5 linked regions of the Homo sapiens genome follow. The protein of the gene in region 1 interacts with the protein of each later gene in a pairwise test. Each region holds a gene or a part of one and is shown in the gene's direction. Other genes may lie near its edges.

The links.
Region 2: the proteins of CUL3 (region 1) and DYRK4 interact in a two-hybrid assay, tested with the Homo sapiens proteins (one large-scale study listed by BioGRID and IntAct).
Region 3: the proteins of CUL3 (region 1) and RHOBTB1 interact in a two-hybrid assay, tested with the Homo sapiens proteins (one study listed by BioGRID).
Region 4: the proteins of CUL3 (region 1) and CAMK1D interact in a two-hybrid assay, tested with the Homo sapiens proteins (one large-scale study listed by BioGRID and IntAct).
Region 5: the proteins of CUL3 (region 1) and KCTD2 interact in a two-hybrid assay, tested with the Homo sapiens proteins (one study listed by BioGRID).

The regions. Positions count from the first base shown.
Region 1 is NC_000002.12:224,505,353-224,508,877, reverse strand, and holds part of CUL3 (cullin-3), read left to right. Parts: intron 1-1,874; coding exon 1,875-2,020; intron 2,021-2,745; coding exon 2,746-2,922; intron 2,923-3,525. UniProt on the Homo sapiens protein: Core component of multiple cullin-RING-based BCR (BTB-CUL3-RBX1) E3 ubiquitin-protein ligase complexes which mediate the ubiquitination and subsequent proteasomal degradation of target proteins.
Region 2 is NC_000012.12:4,607,187-4,610,711, forward strand, and holds part of DYRK4 (dual specificity tyrosine-phosphorylation-regulated kinase 4), read left to right. Parts: intron 1-140; coding exon 141-201; intron 202-2,968; coding exon 2,969-3,098; intron 3,099-3,525. UniProt on the Homo sapiens protein: Possible non-essential role in spermiogenesis.
Region 3 is NC_000010.11:60,885,186-60,888,685, reverse strand, and holds part of RHOBTB1 (rho-related BTB domain-containing protein 1), read left to right. Parts: coding exon 1-474; intron 475-2,455; coding exon 2,456-2,574; intron 2,575-2,857; coding exon of another isoform or gene 2,858-2,875; exon of another isoform or gene 2,876-3,500.
Region 4 is NC_000010.11:12,762,032-12,765,556, forward strand, and holds part of CAMK1D (calcium/calmodulin-dependent protein kinase type 1D), read left to right. Parts: intron 1-3,525. UniProt on the Homo sapiens protein: Calcium/calmodulin-dependent protein kinase that operates in the calcium-triggered CaMKK-CaMK1 signaling cascade and, upon calcium influx, activates CREB-dependent gene transcription, regulates calcium-mediated granulocyte function and respiratory burst and promotes basal dendritic growth of hippocampal neurons.
Region 5 is NC_000017.11:75,053,711-75,057,235, forward strand, and holds part of KCTD2 (BTB/POZ domain-containing protein KCTD2), read left to right. Parts: intron 1-3,525.

The DNA.
Region 1 (3,525 bases):
CCATTCTCCTGCCTCAGCCTCATGAGTAGCTGGGACTGCAGGCTCCCGCCACCACGCCCGGCTAATTTTTTGTATTTTTATTAAAGACAGGGGGGTTTCACCGTGTTAGCCAGGGTGGTCTCGATATCCTGACCTTGTGATCCGCCCGTCTCAGCCTCCCAAAGTGTTGGGATTACAGGCGTGAGCCACCGTGTCTCGCCAGTATCTTATTATTTTATTAAGTGTATGTAGAAATAATGATATTTAATTTTTGCATGCCAAATTATTTTCATTTACTTTTACATTCCCTTTACCCCAACATTTAAATACAATGAAATTGTAGTAATTTATGTACAACTAAATACACAACATGTAATATCTAAGCAAAACTTACAACAACATAGGATTGAAATAGACAAGTTGTGAACCATTTTGTTAGAAGTATTTGGTGTGCCACATTTACTGTAGTATGTGTCCATAGATTGTTGCATTTGTAATACCTGTTCTAAATATGGGAAACTTGGTTGTAATTTATGCTAAGTATGTGAGAAGCTATAAAATTGCCATGTGTAGGTTACTATGGGCATATATTATTAATGGAAACTAACTAAAATTTGCTGCTGAAAGTCACTGAAATAAAGTTTAGTAAAACTTTGTAAATCTTGCTTTGAAATATTTTAAAAATGTATACAACTTTAAGCTCTAAACTACTCTTAGAACTGTAGACCAAGGTAGGCAAATTAGGGCCTGCCTGGTGCACTACCAGTTTTGTTAAAAAAAAAAAAAAAATCAAGAGTATTTACACATGAAAATTTATATAAATTTTCAGGGTCCATGAAGTTTTATTTGAAACATAGTCACACTGAATAATTTATGTATTATCTGTGGCTACTTTCTTGCTACAGCGTCAGAGTAGTTGAGTCAGAGCTCTATGGCTCACATTTTAAAATATTTATTATCTGATACTTTACAGAAAAAACATTGGTCAGCCTCTGATCTAGAAACTCTTAATGCCATTTTAAAAAGTTATTGATTGTAAAACTTTTAAAATTATCATTGTAAAGTTCTGACACTGTGTTCTCCCAGTAAGTTGTTATTGCAAAGAAACACTAGACATATGGGAAAACTGTATTTTAAAATCTGTATTTTAGTCTTGTGAAAAATGATATTAAAAAATGGATAGGATCCAGAGTTTTCATTCTAAATTTAAAAAGTATAGTGAGATAGACCAAATTTTGAAGTACAGATATTGGCTTAGGATGCTACCTGGGAAACATTAGGGATTGCTCTCAGGAAAATATTGAAGAAGTGGTATTTATATTATACATTTCATAAAAACTTTACCTGAGGTGTAATGAAGTAAATCCTAGTATAGTTCATTTGATTTGTTTTCATGATTATCAGTTAAACCTTTGGAAATACCCATAAGACTTAAACTGGCTTTAAAATTTCTTCCTCATTACAGGGACTACCAATTACCTCTTAATTAGTGACCCTTTTTGTAGACGTTTTGTAGTGTCATTAGGTCTGCATTAGAGTTATGTAGGATAAAGTATTTATGAACTCAAAACTGCAGTTGCCATGTTTTTGTGACATTACTTGTTTATTATGGTTTTTGACATCTCTTCCATGTAAATTTAAATTTGCTAGGACATTTAATTGATGGTTTCAAAGCATCTCATCTAAAAGTTGTGTTTTATAAATTACAATAATAACCATTAACTAGCCTACTTCTTCATGTTTTCATATCAATATATGTATATTTTTAATAGTCATGTGGTCAGCAAATGGGGGTAATGGAGAAATAAGCTTCTCTCAGTATTATAGCGTGAACAGAGATTCGTGTTTTTTTCTTTAATCTTTAATGTAGCCAATTTGTGTTTTCTGATTTGTAGACCTTGGTTGCATGTACAAGTTATTTAGTCGTGTGCCAAATGGTTTGAAAACAATGTGTGAGTGTATGAGTTCCTATTTGAGGGAGCAAGGTAAAGCTCTTGTTTCTGAAGAAGGAGAAGGAAAGAATCCTGTTGACTATATCCAGGTAAGTAAACCCAGAAGATTCTCTGTGTTTATGATAAAGGCATTTTGACAAGTGCTAAAAAGGCCACTTTTACCATGCTGTGTATTGTGTACTTTCAACTTAATTGTCCCAGTAGTAAATTAATATTTGTAATTATCCTACATATTTTAGGATTTTGCAAGGTGTGCGTATTTATATCAGGGAGCTAAAATTCAGCTGCTACTTTTCATTTAACTTCTTTGATGAAGACCTTGTTTAAATAGCCTCAATAGTGAATGTGAGGTTCTTTGGTATGCCTTAGTGTTTGTATACTGTAGTATATTGGAAAAAACAACTGGTTTAAGTATTTTTTGTTTGAAAATGTTTTGTTTTCAAGGAGTACTATGAATAAATTATGTGCCATGTTTTGTGTTTTAACATAATCAGCTTTTTTTGGTACATTTTTTAAGCTAATTTTTTTCACTGGCTAACCCATTCCATCAAGACAGGAGAATGAGAAACAGTGAGGAGGTTCTTTGGTTCGTTTGCATTGTATTAATACATATATGGAAGTTATAATACTTCTCTCATTGACATTTTTAATAGAGGCTTAGATATAGGCTTGAAAATAATATCAAAACTGTAAGTTTAAAAATGAATATACATGTTTATTACCAGCAAAGTTAAGATAAACATACATGGTCATAAGTGTATTATTTATGGAAAAATTATTATAATGTGTCCTAAATTTTGTTTTTATTTCTAAGGGCTTATTGGATCTGAAGAGTAGGTTCGATCGCTTCCTCCTGGAATCATTCAACAATGACCGTCTCTTTAAACAAACTATTGCGGGTGACTTTGAGTATTTTCTCAACCTCAACTCCAGGTCTCCTGAATACCTCTCATTATTTATTGATGATAAGCTGAAAAAGGGAGTCAAAGGGGTAAGTAGTAATGCATTTGAAAATAACATTTAATTTTATTTAAAGATATAAAATTATATGTAAAATTAGGACATTTCACAGATAAAAATTAAGCATGACCCATTGCTGTGCTTAAATGGGTGCCATGGTCTATTAAAAAATATTGTTTGAAATACTTGACATGCCCAAACGTAGTTAGACATTTCACTTAATGTGTAATTGGCTTCAAAAACAAGCAACTGGATGGGCTTGGTGGCTCATGCCTATAATCCCAGCATTTGGGGAGGCCAAGACAGGAGGCTCTCTTGAGGCCAGGAGTTTGAAATTAGCCTTGTTAACTTAGTGAGACTCCATCTCTACAAAAAAAAAGAAAAAAGAAAAAAATTAGTGGCACACAGTGGTATACACCTGTTGTCCCAGAAGCTGAGGCAGAGGATCACTTGAGCTCAGGAGTTCAAGGCTGCAGTGAGCTGTGATCGCGTGACTGCACTCTATGCTGGGCGACAGAGCAAGACCTTGTCTCAAAAAAACTGAACAACTGTCCAGGTATGGTGGCTCATGCCTGTAATCTCAGCACTTTGGGAGGCCGAGGTGGGCAGACCACCTGAGGTTGGGAGTTTGAGA
Region 2 (3,525 bases), on another chromosome or scaffold:
TGCTACTGACCAGATGTTATTACTTAATGCTTTGAATCCTTATCTGTAGAAGGCAAAGCTTGGCCAAAGTACGCTCCACCCCTCAGCCTTTGAATCTGTGCTCCCACAAAGAATGAACCAATTGAATTATCCTTATTAAGGTGCTGGGTCTGCCGCCAGCCGGCTTCATTCAGACAGCCTCCAGGAGACAGACATTCTTTGGTAAGTCCTAGTGTGTCTCATGAGGTGTCACAGGCCTTGAAGACACCTGCCATACCTTAAGGCTCATTTCATTCTTTTCCCCTGGCCACATACCAAAGGGCTGTGATTAAGAGCGTCTTTCAGAGAAGTAAAAGATAATGAGCAGGGGAATCGGATAGCATGTTGGAGATGGGATGGGGGAGTCACAGTGGGAACAGGGTCTTGACAGTAAAAATGCTCAGGAGGAGGAGAATAGCCAGGTCCCTGCTCAGAAGAGCTATCAGCAAATATTGCAACCTCAAAATATTGTAACTGCATCCTCTCCCGGAAGTTCTCCCCACTCTCCCAAGCAACTTGCCCTCTCACACTATGCACTGTGCAGGGAAATCAAAGAGCAGAAGCTTCATTTCAAGAATAGTGGAAAATTCCATTGCTGCATTATTGTTTCCCCTGCTAAAATTCTTCTTATCCTCCAGACCTTACTGTGCCAGGTTCATTGCCAATGGTTAAGCAAGGACTTAGTTTTGCTTTGATGTGTTGTGGCTGGTAGTTATGTACGTGTCATCTGTCTGATTGTTGGGAGTAAACTTCGTCCACAGTCCAGGCTGCCCCTCTCCTCATAATTCCCAGAATTCTGGATTTTTATGATCCTCCGCCTTTCTATTTAAGTGGTCCTATACAAGATGGAAGGATGGGTCGACAAGGTATCAACTGAGGCAGGGCTTTCAACGTACACGCACCAAAAAGATGCAGCAAATCTCATACCTAAAATCCCTTTAAAGAACCACAGGAAGCTAAGAGTCCCAGATAGAAACAGCCAGAGTGGGCTGAAGGTCAGCAAAGTGGAGCAAAGCCAAATAGGAGGAAAAGGGAACTCCACAGACAGGGACTCCATGCTACCTGGAGTGACATTTCTGACCAGCCATTGTTGTCAGGTCGGTTCATGGACTCCCTCTGACCACACAATCCCAGACATTCCTGGCCCTCCCACCTCTGATTTTCAACTGCGAGCAGCTTCTGAATATGTATGCAAATCACACAATTTCTGTTCACAACTTGCTCCATCAGTAGGAAGGTCCAAAACACTCTCGTGGGGAGATCCTTTAGGATAAAAGGGTTTGGGTCATGCTGGTCAGTATGAACTGATTCAGCCATGTGGGGGTTATAATTTGTCTATTTCTGTACCATTTGGTAAAAAGCCACAGCCCTGAGCCCTGCTACAACTGCAGGCTCCCTGGCCCTCTCCCAGGACTCCTTAAACTCTCCATGATCCAAAAACCTAAAAGCTGAAGGCCAAGCAAGCAGAAGTTCTCTATGATCCTACTCCAGTGCCAGGGCTGTCTTCCATTCTGATTAGTTGGTTCCATGCCATTCATTCCAATGGTTAATTCTTTTAAACATCATCTGGTAATCATGGCTGGAGCTTTGGAGACCTTGCCTCTGAGCAGGGCAGTGTCCTGGTTGCCATAGAATGGTGACCACACATTAACCGAGCAATCTGGCGGTAGGCAAAGGATCTGGCTGGCTCCCCAGTATAATTTACACATGGAGCACGCGAACTGGTCTTTGGATCCCAAATATACTTTTTCTACCCACAACTTAATAATTCAGCCTTTTGGATTAGGCAGAGTCACTGTGGGAAGACATATCTTGAGCCTGTAACTCTGAACTCATGAGATAGCATCTAGGTGGGGACTAGCAGGAAGGGAACACAGAGCACCTTCGTAGGAACGTACTAAAGACATAGGCATGTCTACTTCATAGAGTTCCTTATTTCTACCATCAGCACTAGGCTTTAGGATGGTGATGGGGTTTTGGCAGCAATATCCATGTCTTCACTTCCTGTGAAAGAAGGAATGTTGCTGAGAACTGCATCTTCGTCAGTGTTTTCCAAACTCTATCCAAATGTAAGAATCATTTGGGGACTTGGCAAAAAAGCGAATTCCTGTGATTCTCTTCTATAAGCTATGCTATGGGAAGATTGCGATAGGACCCAGGATTCGACGTTTTTAATGACGGCTCCTTGTGATTCTTATGACAAAATAAGTTTGGGAAACACGGTTGTCCACTTCAGTTCTTGACTGTTCCTTTCCCAGGTTTGGGCTGCCAACTGCTCCTCTGCCCCGGGCGACTCCTAGTTAATACCCCTAATTAGCAGCAAAATGGTGTTGTCTCAAGGCTGGTAAGATATTATACTTAGGTGGCCCAGGTGGCTCAGGTAGTAAGAAGGGGATGGAGGGAATGACTGATGAGGGCCAGAGTGAGAAAAAACAATTACATGATCATGACTTTAGGAGCTTTGTTATTGATAAGACTGTGAGCTTGATTCTTCTTTGGTCATTGGTAAAAAGGACAATGTAGGATGAAGTGGGAGGGCTAAGGCCATGATCCAAAAGGAAATGGATATTTGTACAATTTCACAGGACCTTGTCACTTAACATTTACTTTACCATTGTCATTATTATCATTAGCATTATTATTTTATCTTGGTTGGTGTTAAGCCATTTAAATTATTTCTTTGATTTGGAGAGGAGGCAGTGGGAAGGAAGTTCAGAACATACTGAATAGTAGGAAAAAATCAATTTTTAAAGTAAATTGCATTCCTTGGGTAATCTACACATGGTTATTTCAAACTGAGTGTGTGTGTGTGTGTTTATTGGGGTGTGGCATGAGGCGAGTGTGTAAGACAGAGAGCAAAAGAGCTACAGAGGCCACTCTAAGCAGCAGCATCATGTGACCACTAAAGATTTACACCTGAAACTAAATACAGAATGTTCTATCTCTACAGATTCCAAAGGTTTTCCTAAAAATATAACCAACAACAGGGGGAAAAAAAGATACCCAGATTCCAAGGACCTCACGATGGTGCTGAAAACCTATGACACCAGCTTCCTGGACTTTCTCAGAAGGTGTTTGGTGTGAGTTTGTTGGGACATCTCTGCTTCTGGGTTTCCTCTTAAATGCTGTACTTTGACACACGTTTGCTGGTGAAAGACTAAGGCTGGGAGATAGTTATAAAAGTAACAAGAAATGCTAACAATAGAGCTTTAAAGTCTACAAATTGCTTCCACATCTGTTGTTTCATCAGACATCTCTCCCTACTGTGTGGTTGTCAGGGCAGATGATTTGCTCTGTTTTGCACGTATGGAGGTTGGGGTTCAAAGAGATTAAGTGACCTGCCCTGGAATACACAGCGTATGGTAGAGTTTGTCATCTTCCTGGCCTCAAACTGCCTGGCAGTGAGATTGTTTGCCAGTCCTAAATGTCTTCTGCTCTGTGAGCTGAAGCCAACCCCCTGACTGCTTGTTGTAATGATTTGCATACACATCCAGTGTAAACTGGTTT
Region 3 (3,500 bases), on another chromosome or scaffold:
ACCCAGAGGAAGAAAGGGAGGAGGGCCCGCCTAGGATTCCTCAGGCCGACCAGTGGAAGTCTTCAAACAAGAGCCTGGTGGAGGCTCTGGGGCTGGAAGCCGAGGGTGCAGTTCCTGAGACACAGACTTTGACCGGATGGAGTAAGGGGTTCATTGGCATGCACAGGGAAATGCAAGTCAACCCCATTTCAAAGCGGATGGGGCCCATGACTGTGGTCAGGATGGACGCTTCAGTCCAGCCAGGCCCTTTTCGGACCCTGCTCCAGTTTCTTTATACGGGACAACTGGATGAAAAGGAAAAGGATTTGGTGGGCCTGGCTCAGATCGCAGAGGTCCTCGAGATGTTCGATTTGAGGATGATGGTGGAAAACATCATGAACAAGGAAGCCTTCATGAACCAGGAGATTACGAAAGCCTTTCACGTAAGGAAAGCCAATCGGATAAAAGAGTGTCTCAGCAAGGGAACGTTCTCGGGTGAGTGGGCCGCGGGGCAGAGCCATTAATACCTTTGATTGTGTTTCATTGAACGTTAGCCAGACATGAGCAGGAGAAAGAAGAACGATAGCTAACATTTATACGTACTTATTTTTTCCCATGTACCTTTCTAAGCTACAGGCATTAACTTCTTTAATCCTCATCAGACTTAAAGGTTAAATATGATTGTCTCCATTTTGCAGGTGGAGAAACCAAGGGACAGAGAGGTTAGGTAATCTGCCCATGGTCACACCAGCAATAAATGGTAGAGCCAGGATTTGAACCCATGCTCTTGTGGGTATCAAAACCTGTTCCATAAACCACCATGGTACCACACTGCTCCTCAAGAGTGGATCAGGGACCCCAAGCCTATCTCCAGTGGGCTTGTTGCATACAATTCCCCTTCAGAATCTATTCTCTGACCAATTCTATTCTCCATTGACCCTTCAGCACTGACCCATGACAAAAATCAGTGATCTCAAGTCCTGAGGCCACTAAAGTCCTTGAGGCAATTTTGGTGGCCCTCCATCTTCCTACAAGGGGTGTCTCATCTGTTTCCATCCCCTCTCCTTTTCCGTCCTCATGCTCCTTGGCCCTGCACTTCTGTAGTTTTCCTGCACCTCCTTTGCCTTTGATAACTATGCCATATGCTGCCCGCAGCACCCTTTCATAATTGTTAAGCATGCTGGTGGCCCGCATCCAATATGGGTTATTGACCCATGCTTGTACTGTCTTACACTTGGACTATTTTTGTTCTGAAATTGTTCTCTGGGCTGGTGTGTGGGTGTGTGTAATTTCATCGTAAAATGTTGACTTCCTGACTTCTATTTATATGGATACCTCTACCTTTGTCTTTATCTTTTATAATCCCTGCCAGGGCATTACACATTTAGTAAGTGGTTCCTAAAGACTCAGTTCATTCATTTTAAAGCTTATGAGTAGTATTTACTTCAAACACTGGCCATTGTGTTACAGAAACAGTCTTGAAAATTAATGAAAAGAATATGTTACAAACCTACAGTAACTTAAACAGTGAGCTTTAGGTAGAGTTGATTAAATCACCTCCTCCTTACTGGAGAGGCATAATAATCAAATACAATGTGGGAGTCTCAATTGGATTCTGTTTTTTTTTTTTTAAAGCTATGAAATACGATTTAGGGATAATTGGAGAAATTTGAATATGAACAATATAGTGGATGATAATAGGGAATTATTTTTAATTTTCTTAGGTGTAATCATAGTATGGTTATTTAGGAGACTGTTGTTATTTTGGGAAAACTTGTGATAAGGTAGTTAGGAGTGAAGTGCCATGCTATCTGTAAAAAAAAAAAAGTCTATACACATACACAAAATTATACAAAAATACACATATAGCCAGGCATGGTGGCTAATTTGCCCACAGTCCCAGCTACTTCAGAGACTGAGACAGTAGGATTGCTGGAACCCGGCAGTTTAAATCCAGCCTGGACAACATAGCCAGACCCACCCCCCCCCACATCTCTTAAAAAAAACAGTAATTCGGTTACATTTTGGTATAGCATACGAGTAGAGCATATTATAAATGTAAGGTTTAATTGAGTATTAATAAGTAAAATGGTGTAAATTAAAAATATACGTAAAACAAACATGCCAAAATGTTAACAAGGATAAATGAGTGGTCATCATACTGTTCGTTCCACTGTTTTATATGCTTGAAGTTTTGCATAGCAAGGAGGAAAAAATATTCCCTCCTTTCTATTACTTTCTGGTTCAGAGAGTTTGTGCCGTGACTTTATGTGTGATGATGTCAAATACAGCATGCTGCCTTAGGTGGGAGCTGGGTGTGTCAAAGCTCAAAGATGGGGATTGACATAAAATCAGTAAGTAAAGACATGCAAGAGAGAGTAAGGGAGTCGCAGTTTGGTGGCTATGGGAGCAGAAGCCTTGGTTGAAGCTCTCAGCAAAGTTGGCTCATGGTTGTGTTTCCTCAATCCCTTGGCAGACGTGACATTTAAATTGGACGATGGAGCCATCAGTGCCCACAAGCCGCTGCTGATCTGTAGCTGTGAGTGGATGGCAGCCATGTTCGGGGGGTCATTTGTGGAAAGTGCCAACAGTGAGGTACGTGCCTTCCTAAAAGCATAGTGGTGTCTTTATGAATGTATGTGTGCCTGTGTATTTATATAAAGTGGGTAAACAGCCAGATGACTTTAATCCTTAAACTGGCTCCATGAGTGGTCATCATACTGTTAGTCATAATCATAAGGAGCTATTGCTCCTTAGTAGTGCTTGAGGGTTTGGTCACCTTTTTCTTAGATCTGCAGTTTTGAGGAGCTATTGTTTATTGGTCACTGGTGTGGGGGCACCTGGGTGCTTTACATGCCATATATCTTTTCATCCTCAGAGCCGTCCTCATCCATGAAGACAAGATCAGCTGTACCTCTTGGCAAATGTCACCAGGCATGGTACTATCAAAACCAAGTACAAGAGGAGCATGTCTCCCAGTAGTTCAGAAAGGGAAAAGAGTTCTTCAGCCACCTAAGTCCTGGGCTTAGCTATGCCCCTAACCAGACAGGGGACCTTGAGAAGCCGCATTCCTGTGCCTCAACCTCCTCATCTGCAAGCTGAGGGATGCACTAGATTGTCCTTCAGGTTACCATGTGCTACAATACTGTCTAAGGCTCTGCCCTGACTCTGCCTGTGTTGAGGGGATATGAGGGTTTGTTAACTTTAGGGCAACAGTAATGGAGCAAATGTTTACTCCCCTGAACACACCTCTCAAGGTACTTAGGTCTAGCGGAAGCAGCTACATCACTTGTCAGCCCCTGGCTCTATCTCTAGAAGAGACATATGCTTAGAGAAGAGCAAACAGCATCTTGGATACCCTGTGTCTTTGTCTTTCTTGTTGTTTTACTTTTAACTGACAAATAATAATTATTATACATAGTTATGGGGTACATGATGTTTCAATATACATATACTGTGGAATGATCAAATCGGGTTAATTAGCCTATCCATCACCTCAGATGTTTACCATTTCTTTGTGA
Region 4 (3,525 bases), on another chromosome or scaffold:
GTAGACACTGAAGGACAGATGTCAAACACAATAGTACTGAAGGGTGGATGTCACACATATGGTACCAAAGGTAGGTATCAGACATATCAACTTGAGAAACAGTAGAAAGCAGTGCGGTTGACCCAAAGCTGCAATGTGACCTCATTCTAGGATGTTTACAGGTCCAGCCCCCAGAGCTTACTGCACCAGTCAAGACAAAAATTCCACCCCAGCACACATACCCACCACTCATTATAAACACGAGGATCATATCATCTTGAAGCTGTGCTGTACACAACTGTGGGAAATCAAAATCAATTTAAAGAACCAGTCATAAACATTTGTATAAACAGAGTTTCCACACCTGGCTATTACCTGCTACTGGGTATTAAGGAATAAAGTGGTGTAGCTTTTTCTTTCATAAAGACTCACTACCATGGTTTTTCTGCATGTTGTCATGTTCCATTGACCCAGGCAGTGATTCCCGAATGTTCGCCCATATCAGAATTGTCTGGAGGGCTATGAAAATAGAGACTGCTGCCCCATCCCCAGTGGTCTGATTCTGTAGGTCTCCGGTGGGGGCTGAAAACTTGCATTTCTAACAGGTCTGCCCGTGATGAGGATGCTGGTCTGGGAACTGCTCTTGGAAAACCACTGGGCGAGGATATTTGGGAATCTTAGTGGATCCCTTTGAGCCTTCATCCTCTGCAGGCTTCTTGACATCTGAAATGGCTGTGGGCGTGGTCAGCTCATGTTCGGGGCCTGGAGATACTTCAGAGGGCTAGGTAGGGGCTAGCTCAGCCGACCTGGCACCTCTGCCAGGCCTCCGGGCCTTCTCTGCTCTCTTGTGCCCCCACAAATGCCAGTTCTGTGCTTCCAGAACACATAGGCAGCTCTCTCTGAACACGTTCGTGTGGTGACCACAGGGATGCACTGTGATGGGCTAGCTGTCTGTACTTATTAGAAAAATAATTTCTAAGCAAATAAGGCATATCCAGGAGGGGCAGTGTTTATCTCTCCCTTGGAAAGGCTGATTGGCTGTATGGGAGATAATGTTTTTAATTAACCTACGTAATGCTTTTGGAGGAATCTTTGCAGCTTCCATCCTGTGGAGCCTTAAGATCACCGGGCCTGTCGTTACGTAAAGAACACTGCCATTTTAGGACCTTTCTGTGATCTCTTTTCAGAGGCACAAAGGAGTTTGATCTATGAGGAGGAAGTTGAAATTGGACTACTAAATTTGCGTAAACAGCTAAGAAAATTAAAGTTAAAACAACCTATATAACCAAGCCCAGAGCAATAGAGAGAGGATGATCGTGTTAATTTAAGCTTAGTGCAGCAATCGGAATACTGCCCCAGCCTACCTGCAAATGTACCTCCTTCTCTTCGTAGAAAGCTATGCGATGTCTTGTTGCCCTGAGAAGCTATTAGAGACAGTTGCTCTTTTTGCAAAATGAAGTGACTGAGACTGGAAGTGCCTGGTCCTGCCTCAGTGGATTAGGATTGGGTTTCTCAGCCCCTGCACCATTGGCATTCAGCCCTGGGCACTGTGGGATTTAGAGCAGCATCCTTGGCTTCTGCCCATGGATACGAGTACTACGTCTGGAATTGTTAACAGCTACAAATGTCCCTAGGCATTGCCAGATATCCATCCGCTGGGGGGCAAAATTGCCCCTAGTTGAGAATCACTGGAGTAGGAATGTGATTATGGATAACATTAACGTTACCAGAAGTGTGTTGATTCCGATCTTATTAAAGCTTATTATGTGGATTATTATAAAGTGTTGGGGTTGATATTCCAACTCAGGTATTGGCCACCAGTTGTCTTGCAAAGATGCCATAATATGCCGAAAACTTAATTTTTCCAGTGAGTCCCGGACCTCTTTGGACACCAGGAGGAATTGTGATGCAATGTGGGCCAGACCCTCTCCCTGTGGCCCCCACCCCCACAGCCCTCCTGTTGGGATCGGGGATGGGGCCTCCCACCCAGATGATACCTGAGCCTGCCTCTCCCCCACCGTCTTCCCTCCTCCCCCAGGAAAAGCCCTGCTGTCCTTACAAGTCTTGGGCCAATTAAAAGTATTGATTGGCTGGGCGCGGAGGCTCACGCCTGTAATCCCAGCACTTTGGGAGGCGGAGGCGGGTGGATTGCGTGAGGTCAGGAGTTCGAGACCAGCCTGACCAACATGGTGAAACCCCATCTCTACTAAAAATACAAAAATTAGCCAGGTGTGGTGGCAGGTGCCTGTAATCCCAGCTACTCAGGAGGCTGAGGCAGGAGAATCGCTTTAACTGGGGAGGCAGAGGTTGCAGTGAGCCGAGATCGCACCATTGCACTCCAGTCTGGGCAACAAGAATGACACTTTGTCTCAAAAAAAAAAAAAAAAACATTGATCTAAACTGTGAATGACCAGTTGATTTAACCCTCCTTGGGCGTAACTGGTCTTCAAAACAGCATTTTATTGACCCAGATGAATCTTTTCTAGGAGGGATGTGCGATGCTCTGAGCCCTTTGGCCACCCCTTGCCAGGATTATGCCTTGTTTAGCAGTGTGAAATCACTTACTCTCCTCTCCTTATCACCTCCTGGGACAAGGAAGATAAAAAATCAGAAACAACAGCATTGTCCTCTCTCTGCACCCATGATTGGATCCTTATTGTTTAGTGAAGGATAATCCCTAAACTTCCAGAGAAAACATGAACCATGTGGTCTTTATGATTCGAGCATTCCCGCCCCTTTTCTAAGCTTGACAGCATTCTTGTTTCAACTGATTGGCGACTTTACTTTCTTTTAAAACTCATTGGGGCCAGTGCGGTGGCTCATGCCTGTAATCCCAGCACATTGGGAGGCTGAGGTAGATAGATCGCCTGAGGTCAGGAGTTTGAGACCAGCCTGGCGAACATGATGAAGCCTTGTCTCTACTAAAAATACAAAAGTAGCCGTGTGTGGTGGCACATGCCTGTAATCCCAGCTACTCCGGAGGCTGAGGCAGGAGAATTCCTTGAACCCAAGAGGCGGAGGTTGCAGTGAGCTGAGATTGTGCTACTATACTCTAGCCTGGGTGACAGAGAGAGACTCCATCTCAAAAAAAAACCTCATTGGAAGCATCCTTCAGTGCACAGTTGATTTTCTTCTAATCTCCTGCTTCATCCACAAAATTAATGTCACAGTGACTCTTAACTGCCATCCCTTTCTGTGTTGTTACTTGAGGTGAAGGATAGTATTTATTCTTTAGTTTCTATTAAAGAACAGAATTATTTTGACACCACTTGACATGGTAAGGAAGGCTTTATTCAAGACCATTGCAATGCCATTGAGCTCAACTTGGAATACAGCTAGACGAGTAGGGATTTATAGCCAAAGAAGAGAGGGGAGGGGGTAGTGGATGGGAAATTAGGGGGATTTTTGCTAACCTGACCTGGCAGGATTCCTGCTAAAGGCAGGCTAAGGACTTAGACATTGACAAAGGCCCCTTTGAGTCCTCTTTCTGATTAGACCCTGCTCTCTGGCTGTCCAGTAGGTCCAGTTTTTAGCAAGAATCCTGCT
Region 5 (3,525 bases), on another chromosome or scaffold:
GGGATTACAGGCGTGAGGCACTGCGCCCAGCTTGGCCACTCTTTATGGAGATGAGCCTTTAGCATGTGATCGAGTCACATGCAGCTCCTGTGAGCCACTTGAAACCAGTCTCATGGGGTACGCTTCAGCAGCTGCTTGTGAACCATGCTTTTTTTTTTTTTTTTTTTTTTTTTTGAGACAGAGTCTCACTCTCTCCCCCAGGCTGGCCTCCCAAAGTGCTAGGATTACAGGAGTGAGCCACCACACCCAGCCTGAACCATGCTTCTAAGAACATAATATCAAGCTGCTCTTTATGATGGTGTCTTGATTTTGGCGGGGAGAGGGAGGACAAGGTCTCACTCCCGTTGCCCAGGTTGGAGTGCAGTGGCGTGATCACAGCTCACTGCAGCCTTGGCTTCCCAGGCTCAGGTGATTTTCCTACCTCAGCCTACCGAGTAGCTGGGACTACAGCTGCAAGCTACCACACCTGGCTAATTTTTTGTATTTTGGGTAGAAACGAGCCTTGTTGGCCAGGCTGGTCTCAAACTCCTGAACTCAAGCAACCCGCCCACCTCATCCTCCCAAAGTTCTGGAATTACAGGTGTGAGCTACCGCACCTGGCCTTGATTTTGATATTAACTCAGATACAGTAACAAGAGCGAAAGGGAATTTGCCCACCTAGTTAGAGGAAAGAAAGATGTTACGGCACATCTATTTCACATCCTGCCATTCGTCATATGTTTGTCGTGTGTTTGAATGGCCATAATAGCTTCTATTTGGCCCTTGGGATTCTGTAAGTAATTGAAAGTCCTTGCCCTCAAGAAGCTTGAAGTCGGCCGGGCGCGGTGGCTCACGCCTGTAATCCCAGCACTTTGGGAGGCCGAGACGGGCAGATCATGAGGTCAGGAGATCGAGACCATCCTGGCTAACACGGTGAAACCCCGTCTCTACTAAAAATACAAAAAAAATTAGCCAGGCATGGTGATGGGTGCCTGTAGTCCCAGCTGCTCGGGAGGCTGAAGCAGGAGAATGGTGTGAACCCAGGAGGCGGAGCTTGTAGTGAGCCAAGATCGCACCACTGCACCACTCCAGCCTGGGCGACAGAGGGAGACTCCATCTCAAAAAAAAAAAAAAGAAGCTTGAAGTATAGCCAGGAAAATAGACCCTCTCTTTCATGCGATTAGACTGTTTTAAGAAACTGCAACTACAGAGTTAACAGTAAGAAGGCAGAGTCGTGCTCCACCATGACTACCTGTGTTGTAGCATAATTGCCTCTTTTCCCATCAGATACTGGTAGTAGATGCTTTAGGTATAATCTATTGCAGCACAGAATTTTCCTGCCATTAAGAAGGCAGGAAAATTATTCTTTTTTCTTCTTTTTTTGAGGCAGAGTTTTCCTCTGTCACCCAGGCAGGAGTGCAGTGGCATGATCTCGGCTTACTGCAACCTCTGCCTCCCAGGTTCAAGCGATTCTCATGTCTCAGCCACCTGAGTAGCTGTGATTACAGGTGTGTGCCACAATGCCTGGCTAATTTTTGTATTTTTAGTAGAGATGGTGTTTCGCCATATTGACCAGGCTGGTCTTGAACTTCAGGCCTCAAGTGATCCACTTGCCTCAGCCTCCCAAAGTGCTGGGATTACAGGCATGAGGCACCATGCCTGGCATAAGTTTACTTTTAAAAGTAAAAAATAATGCCTTGGTCTTTCTATGTTAGATTTCATATATCAAAGTTTTCTGGCTCTAGGCCAGGTATGGTGGCTCACGCCTGTAATCCCAGCACTCTGGGAGGCTGAGGAGGGCAGATCACTTGAGGTCAGGAGTTCAAGACCAGCCTGGCCAACATGGTGAAACCCTGTCTACTGGCCGGGCGTGGTGGCTCATGCCTGTAATCCCAGCACTTTGGGAGGCCGAGGCAGGTGGATCACCTGAGGTCAGGAGTTCAAGACGAGCCTGACTAACATGGAGAAACCCTGTCTCTACTAAAAATACAAAAGTAGCTGGGGTGGTGGCACATGCCTGTAATCCCAGCTACTTGGGAGGCTGAGGCAGGAGAATGGCTTGAACCCGGGAGGAGGAGGTTGTGGTGAGCCGAGATCACGCCATTGCACTCCAGCCTGGGCAACAGGAGCGAAACTCCCATCTAAAAAAAAAAAAAGAAAGAAAGAAACCCTGTCTACTAAAAATACGAAAATTGTCTGAGTGTGGTAGCGGGCGCCTATAATCCCAGCTACTTGGGAGGCTGAGGCAGGAGAATCGCTTGAACTAAGATAGCAGAGGTTGCAGTGAGCTGAGATGGCACCACTGCACCCCAGCCTGGGCAACAGAGTGAGACTCCATCTCAAAAAAAAAAAGTTTTCTGGCTCTAACTGGAATATTTGGATGAATAACTGACACTAATGATGAAAAATTAACTCTTTTATCCACTTTATCTCCAGCAGTTTGCAAAAGTGAAGAGAAGGGCTTATTCATTTAGTTTTCTTCCATCTAGCTGACAGCTCAAAGGCTCCTTTTTGATGTTCAAAGGTGGCTTTGTAGTTGGTTTGCAGATTACCACTTGGAATGTGATCCAGTGTCACCAGTCTCTTTGCTATCTTACCTTTACGTGGTATCTTTCACTATTGTAGATATTTAATAGTTTAGACATTTTGGTAATCTAGCCTTATCCTCAGTTTCCCACATTCTAAAAAAATGATTGCTTACTATAGATTTTAAAGTACCATGAATTATGTAATTTGAAATGATTCAAGTCATGGTACCTGAACATTCTCCCTTCTTCGTCATTAGCTAATTCCTGGAGAGCATTATAAGATTTCTGTTTGATGACCGCAATTAAATTAATTAGTCTTCTAGATTCTGAAGGCTTGTGGATTTATACCCCTTTGGAAGCTTTTTTGTTCTAGGAATGTCAAGACCTTTTTGATGTTAACTATCTTTCCATCTGTCCTTTTTATGTAGTGAAACTGAAAAATGGATTTGATGTTATTCAAAGACACCCTCTTTTATACTTGTTGTATGTGGCTCTAAGATGAAGTTGGCTGTGTGTGGATTTTCGTTTTGTTTCATTTTGTATTTTTCTTTATTTTTTTGTGTGTGGATTTTCAAACATGTTACCTCCTTGAACTTACCTGTAGCCCCTCACACATGCAGGATTCAAGCCAAGCCCAAGATGTGGGCCTCAACCCTACCTTCGGTTTCATGACCTCTTAGCTCTTAGTGGCTGCCACCTAACTACTTTCCTCTGTTTCTTTTTTTTTCTTTTTTCTTTTTTTTTTTTTTTTTTTGGAGACAGAGTCTCGCTGTGTTGACCAGGCTGGAGTGCAGTGATGCGATCTCAGCTCACTGCAACCTCTGCCTCCTGGGTTCCAGCGATTCACCTGCCTCAGCTTCCCGAGTAGCTAGATTACAGGTGTGCACCACCACGCCCGGCTAATTTTTGTATTTTTAGTAGAGACAGGGTATCCCCATGTTGGCCACACTGGCCTCAAACTCTTGATCTTAGGCGAGCCACCAACCTCAGCCTCCCAAAGTGCTGGGATTACAGGCGT